Linked DNA regions of Homo sapiens. The protein of the gene in region 1 interacts with the protein of each later gene in a pairwise test. Each region holds a gene or a part of one and is shown on either strand. Other genes may lie near its edges.

What was found.
Region 2: the proteins of LAMP2 (region 1) and FAM177A1 interact in binary tests that used the Homo sapiens proteins (3 or more experiments, as listed by UniProt).
Region 3: the proteins of LAMP2 (region 1) and SHOX2 interact in binary tests that used the Homo sapiens proteins (3 or more experiments, as listed by UniProt).
Region 4: the proteins of LAMP2 (region 1) and COQ8A interact in binary tests that used the Homo sapiens proteins (3 or more experiments, as listed by UniProt).

Annotation. Positions count from the first base shown.
Region 1 is NC_000023.11:120,428,473-120,431,296, forward strand, and holds part of LAMP2 (lysosome-associated membrane glycoprotein 2 isoform A precursor), read right to left. Parts: 3' UTR 155-2,824; coding exon of another isoform or gene 12-154; 3' UTR 1-11. UniProt on the Homo sapiens protein: Lysosomal membrane glycoprotein which plays an important role in lysosome biogenesis, lysosomal pH regulation and autophagy.
Region 2 is NC_000014.9:35,073,772-35,077,271, forward strand, and holds part of FAM177A1 (protein FAM177A1 isoform 1 precursor), read left to right. Parts: intron 1-3,378; coding exon 3,379-3,445; intron 3,446-3,500.
Region 3 is NC_000003.12:158,103,621-158,107,714, forward strand, and holds the start of SHOX2 (short stature homeobox protein 2), read right to left. Parts: upstream 2,801-4,094; 5' UTR 2,405-2,800; coding exon 2,059-2,404; intron 1,822-2,058; exon of another isoform or gene 1,510-1,821; coding exon of another isoform or gene 1,438-1,509; intron 1,386-1,437; exon of another isoform or gene 1-1,385. UniProt on the Homo sapiens protein: May be a growth regulator and have a role in specifying neural systems involved in processing somatosensory information, as well as in face and body structure formation.
Region 4 is NC_000001.11:226,985,294-226,988,044, forward strand, and holds the end of COQ8A (atypical kinase COQ8A, mitochondrial), read left to right. Parts: coding exon 1-47; intron 48-1,159; coding exon 1,160-1,444; 3' UTR 1,445-2,251; downstream 2,252-2,751. UniProt on the Homo sapiens protein: Atypical kinase involved in the biosynthesis of coenzyme Q, also named ubiquinone, an essential lipid-soluble electron transporter for aerobic cellular respiration.

The sequences.
Region 1 (2,824 bases):
GATTTAACTGATTACACAGACTGATAACCAGTACGACTTTTCCTTCTTCCAATCATATAAGAGATAAAGACAACAATTATAAGGAAGCCCAAGGCCACACCCACTGCAACAGGAATAAGAAAGTTGAGGTCAGAGTCAGCAGAACATTCTTCAGCTGTTAGAAAAGAACAGACAGCAAGGAAAGGAAATTAGCAAAGAATGCAATTAAGTAGTAAAAAGCATGCAAGAAACATGCATTTTGAAAGTGTACATAGCTTAGTTTTTTATAGCATTACCTCTATTTTCTTATTTGCTCAATATCTCATTATCACTTTATCTAAAATCACACGAAATTCCTCAGTACGAAAAGCAGAAGGTAAGGGAAGAATGGGAAGGGTCCAAAATAGAGAATTGCGCTTGCCTAATATGGGAAGACTTTAGGTTTGATTATCTAATGACACTGGGTTAAGGAGCCATCATCTACACTTAAAACCACTGCCTGTGTATTTCCCTACTCTCTTTCTCTTCGTCACACCTATAATTAAAGTATAAATAAGAATTCTGTATAAGTAATAAAATTTAAGTTAAAAAAGACTTAGGATCAAGAATGTAGTATATATATACATATATATGTGTGTGTATATATATGTGTATATATATGTATATGTGTATATATATGTGTGTGTGTATATATATGTGTGTGTGTGTACATATATATATATATACACACACACACAATTATTTTTAGCTGAGCGGTGGCCTGGAAGAATAACAGCAGTATCTAATGCGTTGCAGTCCATTCCACCGAACCACCAGGAAAGCAACATGTGCAATGTAGATTTTGAGTTCTGGATTCAGACAGAACTGTGTTTAAATCTTGACTCCTTCCAGTACTAGCCAAAGGACCTTGGGCAAGTTATTTAAACTGGGCCTCACTTTCCTCATCTGTAAGAAGGGGATAATAATACCTATAAGGTATTTGAGGATTAAATACAATTACATTTCTAAAGCATCTGATACACATCAAGAGGTCAACAAGTATTCATTCTCTTCTCTTTTCCTCTTATGCTCATGATCCCATCTGAGGAGGATTAGGTTTTGAAGTAGCAAACAGAGATTAAAATAGAAGTGTTTTGGTATATTACTACTGAAAAAGCCCATATTAGTATTAAAAAAAAAACTTAAGCAAAACATAGTACGGAAGCCCAAAGTGCCCAATTCTGATCTCATAATTTCAAGTGTAAACCAGCTGTTGTTTTACTGTTGAGTGACTAGATTTCATTAGGGGCAATTTTTATCAAAATGCTAGTAATAGTTTTGTTGCCCACTTGATATGGAACCTCAATGAATTTCACTCCCCTTTCTGTAAATAATCGTTAAGGTCCTTTCCAGTAATAGCTAATGAAATTAACAAAATGTGTTATCTGGTGTGATTTATGATTAAGCAATAACTTGTACTTTTCTTCTAATTTTAACTTTTCCTCCTCTTGTACTTTTACCATTCATAAAAATGTTGCTACGGTTCTGAGTACACAACACTCATCTCAGTAACCACACATTAGCCTATGCTGAAAGAATTTACTATATTTTACTGAAAGCTCTCAAAGACTGACAGCTGGGTAACAAGATACACTGTATTGTTAATCAGGAAGTTATAGAGACTCTGATCATGCCCCTATATACATACAATGGGTTAATAATACTTCAATGTGGAAGTCTTCTAGTCTATTAAGCCTTCCTTCTTTATCTATGTTTCATGTCTGTGCTACTCTTATACCATGGAATATGCTTCAACAAGGGCTGATTATCTAGCTCATTTTAATGCCAACAGCTTCTCTTTACACCCCCATCTATGCACTGCCCCACAGGGGCCATCTTGAAGAAACAAGAGCCTAGTTGCTATGCTTCACTGCCTCCCTTCTGAGATTGCTGTTAGCTTACATTTCATAAGTACCACACTGATGACAACACTAAATAGATTTTAATGCTCCAGAGATCAACAAGATGAGGTAGAGAAACACAACACAATCTGTCCTAATTAGTTCATAGAATATTTCTATCTTTCAATACTAATCAGGCATCCAAAGAAGAACAAAACAAGAAACAAAAAAGCAAGTGGCTAAATATGCTTGGATCTTTTCAGTCTATATTGCTGAAAAACAAACAATTATCTTAAAAACTCTAATTACGAAGCCAGTTTAAGTTCTGTTGTAGCCTCTTGGGTCTGTATCATCCCTAGGGAAAAATCACAGGCTTGAGGTACTAACTTCATGCTTAACTTGAACTCAGAGAAATCAGCAAAAGTCACATAACCTTTAAAATGCTGATGGTCCTGAGGACATTCTCTACTTCATTCAACTGAAAACCAAGTTTAAGCATATCTGATGGGCATTTATACCACATCAATATTTATTTAATGAACTTTATGCAAAGGCACATTGATGAGTTTAAATCACTATAGTCCTTATACATTGAAACAGAACACCAGTAGTGAAATGACATTTATTAATTCCATTAAGACACAACTACATATTTTATTCTTATAATGGCCATGTTAATAAGTTCAAGGCATACTTCAAGGTTAGGATCAAAATTTGGCCAGGGCTTCTTAAGATAGACCTTAAAACATTGCACGTTGATGTTCTTTTGAACAAGTTTGTCTCCAGGACCAGTAAATATGACACTTTGGATTTTAAGCTGATTAAAGAGAACAGGTTTTATTAATAAAGACTGATCTCAAAATGCTGGGATTGATAAAAGAATTAAAGTTTCAACATATCAATTTTAAGAAGCAAAGTGTTTCAACAACTGAGAGGTAAGAAAATCTTGTTATTTGCATGTATTT
Region 2 (3,500 bases), on another chromosome or scaffold:
ATTTGTACAAAATAGTAGAGTTAGCCTATCCCTTTCTGCCTTGAATCCTGGTGCTTGCCTCTCTTCCTTACTAATAAATGTCTTTTGTGGCATGTTTTTTCAGAATAGGGCACTTTGATCTCCACTAAAAACCTGTTCTGATAGATATCCTTTCTTCTCAATGATTTTCCTAATGATGTGTGGGAACTCATCTGCTATCTTTTGTTTGGCAGAAGCTGCTTCTCTTGTTTTGTTGACATTTTTAAAGCCAAACTTCTTTCTAAAATTATCAAGCCATCCTTTGCTGGCATTAAATTCTCCAGCTTTAGATACTTTATTAGGGTTCTCCAGAGGGACAGAACTAATAGAATATATGTATATATGAAAGGGAGTTTATTTATTTATTTTTTGTGAGACAGGGTCTCCCTCTGTTGCCCAGGCTGGAGTGCAGTGGTGCAGTCTTGGCTCACTGCAACCTCCGCCTCCCGGGTTCAAACGATTCTCCCGTCTCAGTCTCCTGAGTAGCTGGGATCACAGGCGTGTGCCACTACAGCCCAGCTAATTTTTGTATTTTTATTTATTTTATTTATTTAGAGATGGAGTCTTGCTCTGTTGCTCAGGCTGGAGTGCAGGGGCTCAATCTCGGCTCACTGCAACCTCCGCCTCCCAGATTCAAGCGATTCTCCTGTCTCAGCTTCCCTAGAAGCTGGGATTACAGGTGCACGCCACCATGCCTGGCTAATTTTTGTATTTTGAGTAGAGACGGGGTTTCTCCATGTTGGTCAGGCTGGTCTTGAGCTCCTGACCTCAGGTGATCCACCCGCCTCAGCCTCCCAAAGTGCTGGGATTACAGACGTGAGCCACTGCGCCCCGCCCCATCCACTCAGTCTTAACAGATATTCTTGTGTTTGCCTTTTTAATGCCCTTTTAATCATTAGTATATATAAGAAGATTATGGACAAGTTTTTCTCTTTCTCCCCTCCTTGGAAGCCATATTAAAACAATTATTTCCCAGATGCAGTGGCTTACCCCTGTAATCCCAGCACTTTGGGAGGCTGAGGTGGGTGGATCACATGGGGCCGGAATTTGAGACCAGCCTGGCCAACATGGCGAAACCTTATCTATACTAAACATACAAAAATTTGTGCAATTGGTGCACGTCTGTAATCCCAGCTACTCGTGAGGCTGAGGCACAAGAGTCACTTGAACCCAGGAGGCAGAGGTTGCATTGAGCTGAGATTGTGCCACTGCGTTCTAGCATGGGTGACAGAGTGAGACTCTGTCTTAAAAAAAACTCCAGAAAACAATTATTAATGCATTTGATTCCTTGAAGGCTTTATACTGTGTTTTCTTTGGATAAACGTATTGGTACAATGAAGCATGCCTTTATCACTGGCTTCATCTAGAGAGGCAGATAACATCTGTTTGGCAAGCTTCACAAAATTCATTTGGAATTATAGAACCAAGATTAACTACGTAGGTGTGCATTGTGGATTGCATTCTGCCAGTGGCCCTGGCTTACCAAATATGCACTGAACTTGTCTTGGGTTCTATGGTCTAGTCCTTTTTTAAGACTTAAAGAAGGGATCCAGTTTCAGCTTTCTACCTATGGCTAGCCAGTTTTCCCAGCACCGTTTATTAAATAGGGAATCCTTTCCCCATTTCTTGTTTTTGTCAAGTTTGCTACAAAAATTAACTCAAGATGGATTAAAGACTTAAATGTTAGACCTAAAACCATAAAAACCCTAGAAGAAAACCTAGGCAATACCATTCAGGACATAGGCATGGTCAAGGACTTCATGACTAAAACACCAAAAGCAATGGCAACAAAAGCCAAAATTGACAAATGGGATCTAATTAAACTAAAGAGCTTCTGCACAGCAAAAGAAGCTACCATCAGAGTGAACAGGCAACCTACAGAATGGGAGAAAATTTTTACAATCTACTAATCTGACAAAGGGCTAATATCCAGAATCTACAATGAACTCAAACAAATTTACAAGAAAAAATCAAACAACCCCATCAAAAAGTGGGCAAAGGATATGAACAGACACTTCAAAAGAAGACATTTATTCAGCCAACAGACACATGAAAAAATGCTCATCATCACTGGCCATCAGAGAAATGCAAATCAAAATCACATACCATCTCACACCAGTTAGAATGGCGATCATTAAAAAGTCAGGAAACAACAGGTGCTGGACAGGATGTGGAGAAATAGGAACACTTTTATACTGTTGGTGGGAGTGTAAACTAGTTCAACCATTGTGGAAGACAGTGTGGCGATTCCTCAAGGATCTAGAACCAGAAATACCATTTGACTCAGCCATCCCATTACTGGGTATATACCCAAAGGATTATAAATCATGTTGCTATAAAGACACATACACATGTATGTTTATTGCGGCACTATTCACAATAGCAAAGACTTGGAACCAACCCAAATGTCCATCAATGATAGACTGGGTTAAGAAAATGTGGCACATATACACCATGGAATCCTATGCAGCCATAAAAAAGGATGAGTTCATGTCCTTTGTAAGGACATGGATGAAGCTGGAAACCATCATTCTGAGGAAACTATTGCAAGGACAGAAAACCAAACACCGCATGTTCTCACTCTTAGGTGGGAATTGAACAATGAGAACACTTGGACACAGGAAGGGGAACATCACACACTGGGGCCTGTTGTGGGGTGGGGGGAGCGGGGAGGGATAGCATTAGGAGATATACCTAATGTAAATGACGAGTTAATGGGTGCAGCACACCAACATGGCACATGTATACATATGTAACAAACCTGCATGTTGTGCACAGGTACCCTAGAACTTAAAGTATAATAATAATAAAAAAAAAGACTTAAAGAAACAAACGAAACTTATCTTGCCGCTTATTTGTCCCTTATTTTCCCACCATTAAAAGCTCATTTGATGTTCCCTTACATATCCTGCTTAATTTCTCTGAACCTTAATTTCCCTGCTATAGCATAAGTATGTCAGATGGCATCCTTAAGTTTCTTTCTATTGACTGAACACCCCCTCTGGTGTTGTGTTTATAAATAGTGGAGACAAAAATGCAGCAAGACAGGAGAAAGGAAAGCTCTGGATTGTCAACTCATAAAATAATCCAGACTGCGATTACCAACTCCATTTCAGCGGCTGCATCTTTTTTTGATTCTTCTATGGGCTTAAGGTGGTGGTAGTTATATGGGTGAATGTAAAATATCTTTGTGGAATTTTAACTCTACAGATTTTAAATTGTTGATTGGATTGCAGTCTCTTTGTAGTACTGCCTATAGAATATTCTCGGTGCCTACCAAGTATTTGACTACTTCATTCTGGCCTAAATATATGGAATGAATTTAGGTATGAATGTTGCTAACATGATTTCTTGTTGCAGACAAAACTTACCTGGGGTCCCTACTTATGGTTTTACATGCTTCGGGCTGCTACATCAACTCTCTCAGGTATTGCTTTTCTGCTTGAATATTGTATAATTGCTGTAACATGCTTCAGCAACAG
Region 3 (4,094 bases), on another chromosome or scaffold:
CATGTTGGCTGCCCAAAGGGCTCGCCGCCCAAGCCGGGCCAGAAGGCAGGAGGCGGAAAACCAGCCTCCGGTGGCGGGCGAAAGCAACCGCTCTTTCTGTTCTCTCTTCGCCCTCCCTCGTGGAAACGCAGACTCGACCCTAAACGCTTAACCCACAGAGATCAACAGGTTCAAGCGGAATATTCGCGATCCTCGGTTTCTATTGGTTGCTCAAAGCCTTTTCATGCAACCAGCAGCTCGGATGTTTAATAAAATATGAATTTTTCTGCTCTGGGTTTGCACACATCCGTTGCCACTTTCCTGTCCTTCTCCTCCCTTTAAAAACAGGAGCTCTTCTAGTGTGAGCATATACAGCCACCATATATATATCCCCCTGGAACCTTTATCCTCTGCGCCCGAATCAGAGACTCCGGGTTTTAAGAAGTCAAAGCTGAGTTTAGATAGTCGAGGCTGTTTGCAGTTCTTCCCAGCGCAGGATCCAGGCCAGCATGGGTGTTAAAAATCATTTCCGGAAGAGCCGGTCTGCAGAGAAATTAATACTTGCCCTGAGCTTGGAAATCAACAATCCCAGGAACTGCGCCCGCCGGGGGTTCAGACCTGAACCTCGCCGTCAGGCGCGCTGGCGAACCTGTAGTTCGGGCCTGTAGTTGTGGACTCATGGCCGGGAGGCTGCACTGGGCACCTTGACGGTAACTCCACCACTTTACAAATTTAGGAAGACCTGGTGCTGGTTTGGAGGAAGAAGAGTCGCTAGATCTCGGCCCTGCCGGGCATTCTAGCTACGGTGATCTTAAATATTGCCGTATTTTCTAGTTCTCAGAGTTAGTTTTGTGGACATTTGTCCTTTCTTTAGGAAGGAACATTATAGTAAACATTATGGGCCAATTTAATAGCAAAGTATTTTTACTGATATTGTATTGAAATTTAAATATGAAAACACACCCTTCAAATTCTGCCAATGAGGTGGGAAGGCTTTGTCTATTACATGTCATCTACACAGTGGATGCCACTCAAAGTTTTGGGGCTTCGAGGAGATGTCCAAATTTCAAGTTGATCCATAGACTTAATAAAATCTCTATTTTTGTCCCCAAATTTCCAATTACTGATCTAAACAGGAACAGACCGTGTCATAAACAACTTAATTGCTTGCTTAAATATGTGATTCCACGCATGCCACATATTTTCTTAATTGGAAAAATATGGCAGTACACCAGTTACTGCAGGCACCAAGTGCCAAATCAATTTTATTGTTGAACTCCTTTGAATTGGTATAGAACGCTCTGCCATTGAGATAAAGACGTTTCCTAACACTGAGCTAGCACCAAAGGATTTTTGCTCTAAGAGAACCGAGTACTGGGTGATTGAAAACACTAAAGGAATTGTGTAAATATAGATCCCCACCTCCCCCGCCGCCCCCCCCCCCCGCCCCCAACACACCAAGAAACCGAAACGCCTCGCCCGGGAGAAGCAGCGTAGCCTGGACCTCAGCTTTCGTTGGCTTCCTTCTACCTTGAAAGAGAATGGGAAGTTTTGGCCCCTAAGATCCAAAGATTCAGGGGCTCTGCGGAGTTCGAGGGGTCTTGGCGGCCCCAAACACCTAGGCGACCGGAGGGTTAAGCTTTCCACCTCTGCCCCTTCTCCCTCCCGGCAAACTCTGCGCTAGAGGCTAGCTTTAGTCCCGCCGTCTGGTTCAGCACCCCCTCCTGCAGCCCGGCCCCGCGAACTTCCACGTCCGCCTGCGGGCCATCCGGGCTGCGGGCCCATCCTCCCGCTGGTGAAAAATGCATTTCGGTGGAATGGGAACATCTGGGAAGGGCGCGCACAAACCCCACACGCTTCCCCCCACGCCACCCCCACAACACACTAGGACCCCACCCATGACCGAGCATACCACCGGACCCCCACCCTTCCACTATCACTCTAGCTGACAAAGCTGGGGTCCAGGGCCCTCTCCGTGTCCCTCTCCCCTCCCCGCTGGGCCTCGGAGTCCTCTCCCGCCCGAGAGGAGTCCGGAAGGCGGGAAGGGGAACCGCTGCCGGGGGTCAGTCAGGTCGTTACCCTCCGTCAGTCGCGGGCTGCCCGGCTCCCTGCTTCTCTCGGCGGCGCCCATGTCCAGCTCCCGGACGGGAGAGCGCCCTCCTCCAGCTCCTCCGCCTGCTCCTCCTCCTCCTACACCTCCTCCGCCTCCTCCGCCGCCGCCTCCGCCTCCTCCGCCGCCGCCTCCGCCGGCCGCCCGGACTGCCGGGCTGCTGCGGTCGTCGCGGCCCGCCTCGGTGCAGCCGGTCGGCTCCTTGGCCCCGCGCAGCGGCCCGCTCTCCAGCACCTCCCGGTACGTGATCGCCTCCTTCTTCTCCTTCACTTTCTGGTCAAAAGACTTGGAGACGAACGCCGTAAGTTCTTCCATCGCCGCCGCACGTCAGCCCGGCGCTCAACCTCTGCCAGCAGAGCCCCGCTCTTTTTTTCCTTCTTCTTTTTTTACTGCTCCAGCCCCCCCAATAATAACACATCAATGGGACAGGAGGTGGGGGAGGAGAGGGAGGAGGAGAAAGAAGAAGAAAAAGAGGAGAAGAAAGAAGAAAGAGGAGGAGAAGTAGAAGGAGAAAAAGAAGTAAGAAGAGGAGGAGGAGGAAGAAGAGGAAGAGGGGGAGAAGGGTGAAGAGGAGAGGGAGGAGGAGGAGGAGAAGAGAAGGGGCGGGGGCTGCCGGAGGGAAATGGGAACTGATGCTTCCCTGCCGGAGCGCGCTTGTTCAATGTTAAGATCTTTGACAATTCTTCCTGCGGAGAGTTCAGATCTGATAGCGACGCTGCGCTTGAAGTCCCACTATTTATACTTCCTAACGGCGGCCTCTTGTTTTGAGTAAATTACCTCCCCTCGCAACTCGGAGTGAGCCCCCTTCCCGGGTAGCAGTCGCGCCTCTACCGGGGGTTGGGGAGGGGAAAAGGAGAGAAACAGAGAGAGAGAGAGAGAGAGAGAGAGAGAGAGAGAGAGAGAGAGAGAGAAGAGGAGAGAGAGAGATTGGAGTTCGGGCGGGCTGGGGCTGGAGTGGTAGGGCAGCACAGGGGGACCGGAGGGGGCGGGGAGAGAAGGCCGGTCCCCGGCCGCTCAGGTTTTCAGATAGCCCCTGCCGCCTGTGCTCTTGGCCATTAATCCAGGATTGACAAGAATCCCTAATTAATTTAATTAGGCGTGGATTTTGCGTTGGTGTCACGACTTAGTTAAACACTGGGGAGCTGGATAGACCCCGCGGGGTGGGGCCAAGAGGAAACTGACAAGTGCGCAGCTCTTAGAGTCAGTCAGGTATCCCGACACTGCATCCTTCCCTACAGCCTTGCTTCGAGTCAGGGTGCCTCGCAATGCTCAGCTTCGCATTGCTTTTCCTCGTCCCTGCCCTGCATCAACCGCCCAGCAGTTTACAGGCCCCGCATCCCATTCCCGCATCCTGACCCCGCATCCCAATTCTGCATCCCCGCCTCTCCCTCACAATCCCACCCCTGCCGGCCGTAGCTCCACCGCCCAGCATCATCCTGCCCAGAGACAGGGTTGCCTGCACCTTCTCCGACCCGCGCAGCTTCTCTTAGGAGCTTCCCGGCTCGCAGGCAGGCTGAGTCCGGGTCTTCTCCAAGCTCCTCGCCCCTCGGTCCGTGTTATTCGCTCTATTATTCGTGTCCTGGAGCCCAGCTGACTCCTCTATGGACAGACCCCGCTAAAAGGGACCAGTCGATTTAACAAGTTTCCCCAGCAGCTGTTAGCTGACAGATCTCATTTTAAAGTGTTTCCTTAGCGCCCGGTCAAGGACAGCTCGACTTCGTTCGTTTCCTCTCTGAGGTCTCAGAACTCCCACCCTTCTCCCTTACTCTCTGCACTCGGACCCCTCTATGGTGAATTACAGGACTTCTTCTTTAGCATCTTGGGAAACATCCGAGTTTATTTACTAATTTGAAAAACAAGAGATTATCCCTCTTCGAGTCTGAAAAAAAAATCGACGTTAAGTTTGTACCCCCTCTAATTTCATTTATTACGGAGAGCTAAAAAAGAGACGCTCGCCAGGAGTAAAGGTCTCTCTGCCTACCCCCCCCACCACCCCGCTTACGAT
Region 4 (2,751 bases), on another chromosome or scaffold:
GGGCGAAATCCATAGAGATGAAGTTCCTCACCGGCTACGAGGTCAAGGTGAGCAGGGTTGCGGGGGATCCCCTGGGCCTGCTGACCCAGGGCCCGGCTCCCTGTGTAAGAATGGATGAAAGCACAGGGGGCAGCTGCCCTCAAGGGGCCCCCAGAGCCCGGGCCTCCTTGGGCACGGTCTGAAAGCTGGGGCCCACCCCGGCCCATGCTGCCCTGCTGAGCGTGAGATTTTCCGAGTGGGCCAGTGAGTTGGGGACTTGTCGTGAAGCTCTTGTTTCTGCCTCTCACTCTTGCCCACTTAGGGCTTGGGGTTGGGCCTCGATTGAGCCAACGTGCAGAGCAAGTGGGAAGGGAAGCCCCAGCCCTCCCCTCATCGAGCCTCCCTGGGGGGAGTTGGAAGAAACCTTAGAAGCCTTTTAAATAAAGGGGAACGGTCTGTGCTGGTGCCGCCTGAAGCCACCCACAAAGTGGCATTTTCCGCTTGCTGCTTGACAGTGGGGAAGGAGTTAAAGAAATCCAGGTCAAGCCTTGGGTCTGCCGTCTCATAGGAGTGTCATTTGAGGCTTGTCAGTATCTCTGAGCCCCCCTTATCTCAGCTGTAAGCGCTCAGCGGGCAGCAGCTCTCTCCCGCCTCTTCCTTATGGCCACTCGCACTGACTCGATTCCTGGCCGCCCCGTCCCTCTGACCACCTTGGGCTGTCCCTGGCGGCAGCTCCTCTCCCCTGCTCTGCTGGCGGCGGCTTCCTTAGGTTGCTAGTTCCCGTGGGCAGACACACGGCTGCTGGGTGTGTCTTGGGTGGACTCTGGCAGGCTCAGACACGCATGGTGGGAGGCCCTGCCAGCTTAGGCCCACGGACTCTGTTCTTTTTGGCCAGAACAGTGTTTTGTTAAAACTCTGTATGAGTGCCACGAGGCGGGACGCATCCTCTGCACTCTGCCACAGGCCCCGCCACTCCCTTTTGTATCACATCAGCCCAGTCCATGTTACCCTCGTGTTCCCGGCCCCTGTGGGTTTGAGTTTATGCCCATTACCATGATGTAATCCAGTTTACAGCAGAGCTTTGAATGAGAACTCAGCGCCCCGGGCACTGTGGGAGGAACCCGGGCTGGTGGAGGGCTCTGGTGTCTCGCCGCCATTTATCCTTCCTCTCTTGCCCCAGGTCATGGAAGACGCCCACTTGGATGCCATCCTCATCCTGGGGGAGGCCTTCGCCTCTGATGAGCCTTTTGATTTTGGCACTCAGAGCACCACCGAGAAGATCCACAACCTGATTCCCGTCATGCTGAGGCACCGTCTCGTCCCCCCACCCGAGGAAACCTACTCCCTGCACAGGAAGATGGGGGGCTCCTTCCTCATCTGCTCCAAGCTGAAGGCCCGCTTCCCCTGCAAGGCCATGTTCGAGGAGGCCTACAGCAACTACTGCAAGAGGCAGGCCCAGCAGTAGGGCTGCGGGCCACGCCCAGGCCGGCTCCGCGGGAACTCTCTCCCTCAGACAGGCCAAAAACCAGTAGCGAGGTCGTGGTGATGCTCTTTTTAACTCCTTTGCCCAATAAGGGGGGTGGCTGCCTGGAGCCCCGTAGCCAGCGCTTTCCACGGTTTCTGTTGCTAAATGGTTGTAGGGTGAGAAGTGCAAGAATGAAGATGAAGCCCCACTGCTCGGTCAGTCTGCCTCCGTGTGTCCTCTGAAATAAGCAGATGAAGATGAAAGGGCAACTTTGTTTTCTTCTTTTTCCTGATGTGAATGTTAAGCAGAAGGGAGAGAGTCCTTACTCCCTTCCAATCTCTGTTCAGTGCAAAACCCAGAAACATGAACAGATACGATTGTGGGATTTTATCATCTGTGTAGTAGGTGTGTGTATGTGTTTCTAGAGTGAGATTTGTGTTTTCTGCCCTTTTCCTCTCCAGCCGATGGGCTGGAGCTGGGAGAGGTGCTGAGCTAACAGTGCCAACAAGTGCTCCTTAAGCCTGCGAGGCCCAGGCCTGTGGGGCTGGTTCTCACCTTTGACAGCTGAATGTTCCTAAAGAACTGCTGCCCCACAGTGAGGGTGGGAGCAGCGGAACAGGGAATGCCAGACACAGGCTCGCTGCTGCTGGAAGGCGGGGTGGGACTTCCTTCCTCTGTCCGGAGAGGCACAGGTGTCACCAGTTCCAGCCAAAGGCTCCTCACAGGCGCTGTGAATTTTTGTACAAGTCTTGTAATTATCGAATCAACAACTTGTTTCAATTTAATAAAAATGCTCATGGGAAGTGCTTTGGCGCGTGTACCCTCTTCTGTATTCTGGAGAATGACGACCCGTATCTTCTAGCTCGTGGTGGTGGTTCTTTTCTGACCTGACGGTCAGCAGGTTCAGTGTCACAGCCCATTTGCAAGGGTTGGGACTGGTTCAGCGTGAGGCCCTTGGCCCTGAACCTGGAAGGCTCAGCCCCGTTCCCTGTAAGAAGGGAGGTGGGAGGGGTGGAGAACAGGAGGAGAGGTTGCGGTGTCACTGCCCCAGCCCCCGGGAGGCTGTACCACACTGCTGAAGCTGCTGTACCTGGTGATGGTGGCAACTGGGAGGACAGTGACACCTGCCAGCACGGCTGATGCCAGGTCTGCATCACAGTGAGACGTCTCCTCTCTAGACATCAGCTGCAGTTGAGGACCACGTCCTGAAAAGTGGCTTTTCCTGGGGCCAGACTGATTCCTAGATAACAGGACACACTGGACACTGAGCTGGGGCCCTTTCTACGGACCTGTGAGCAGTTGAAAGT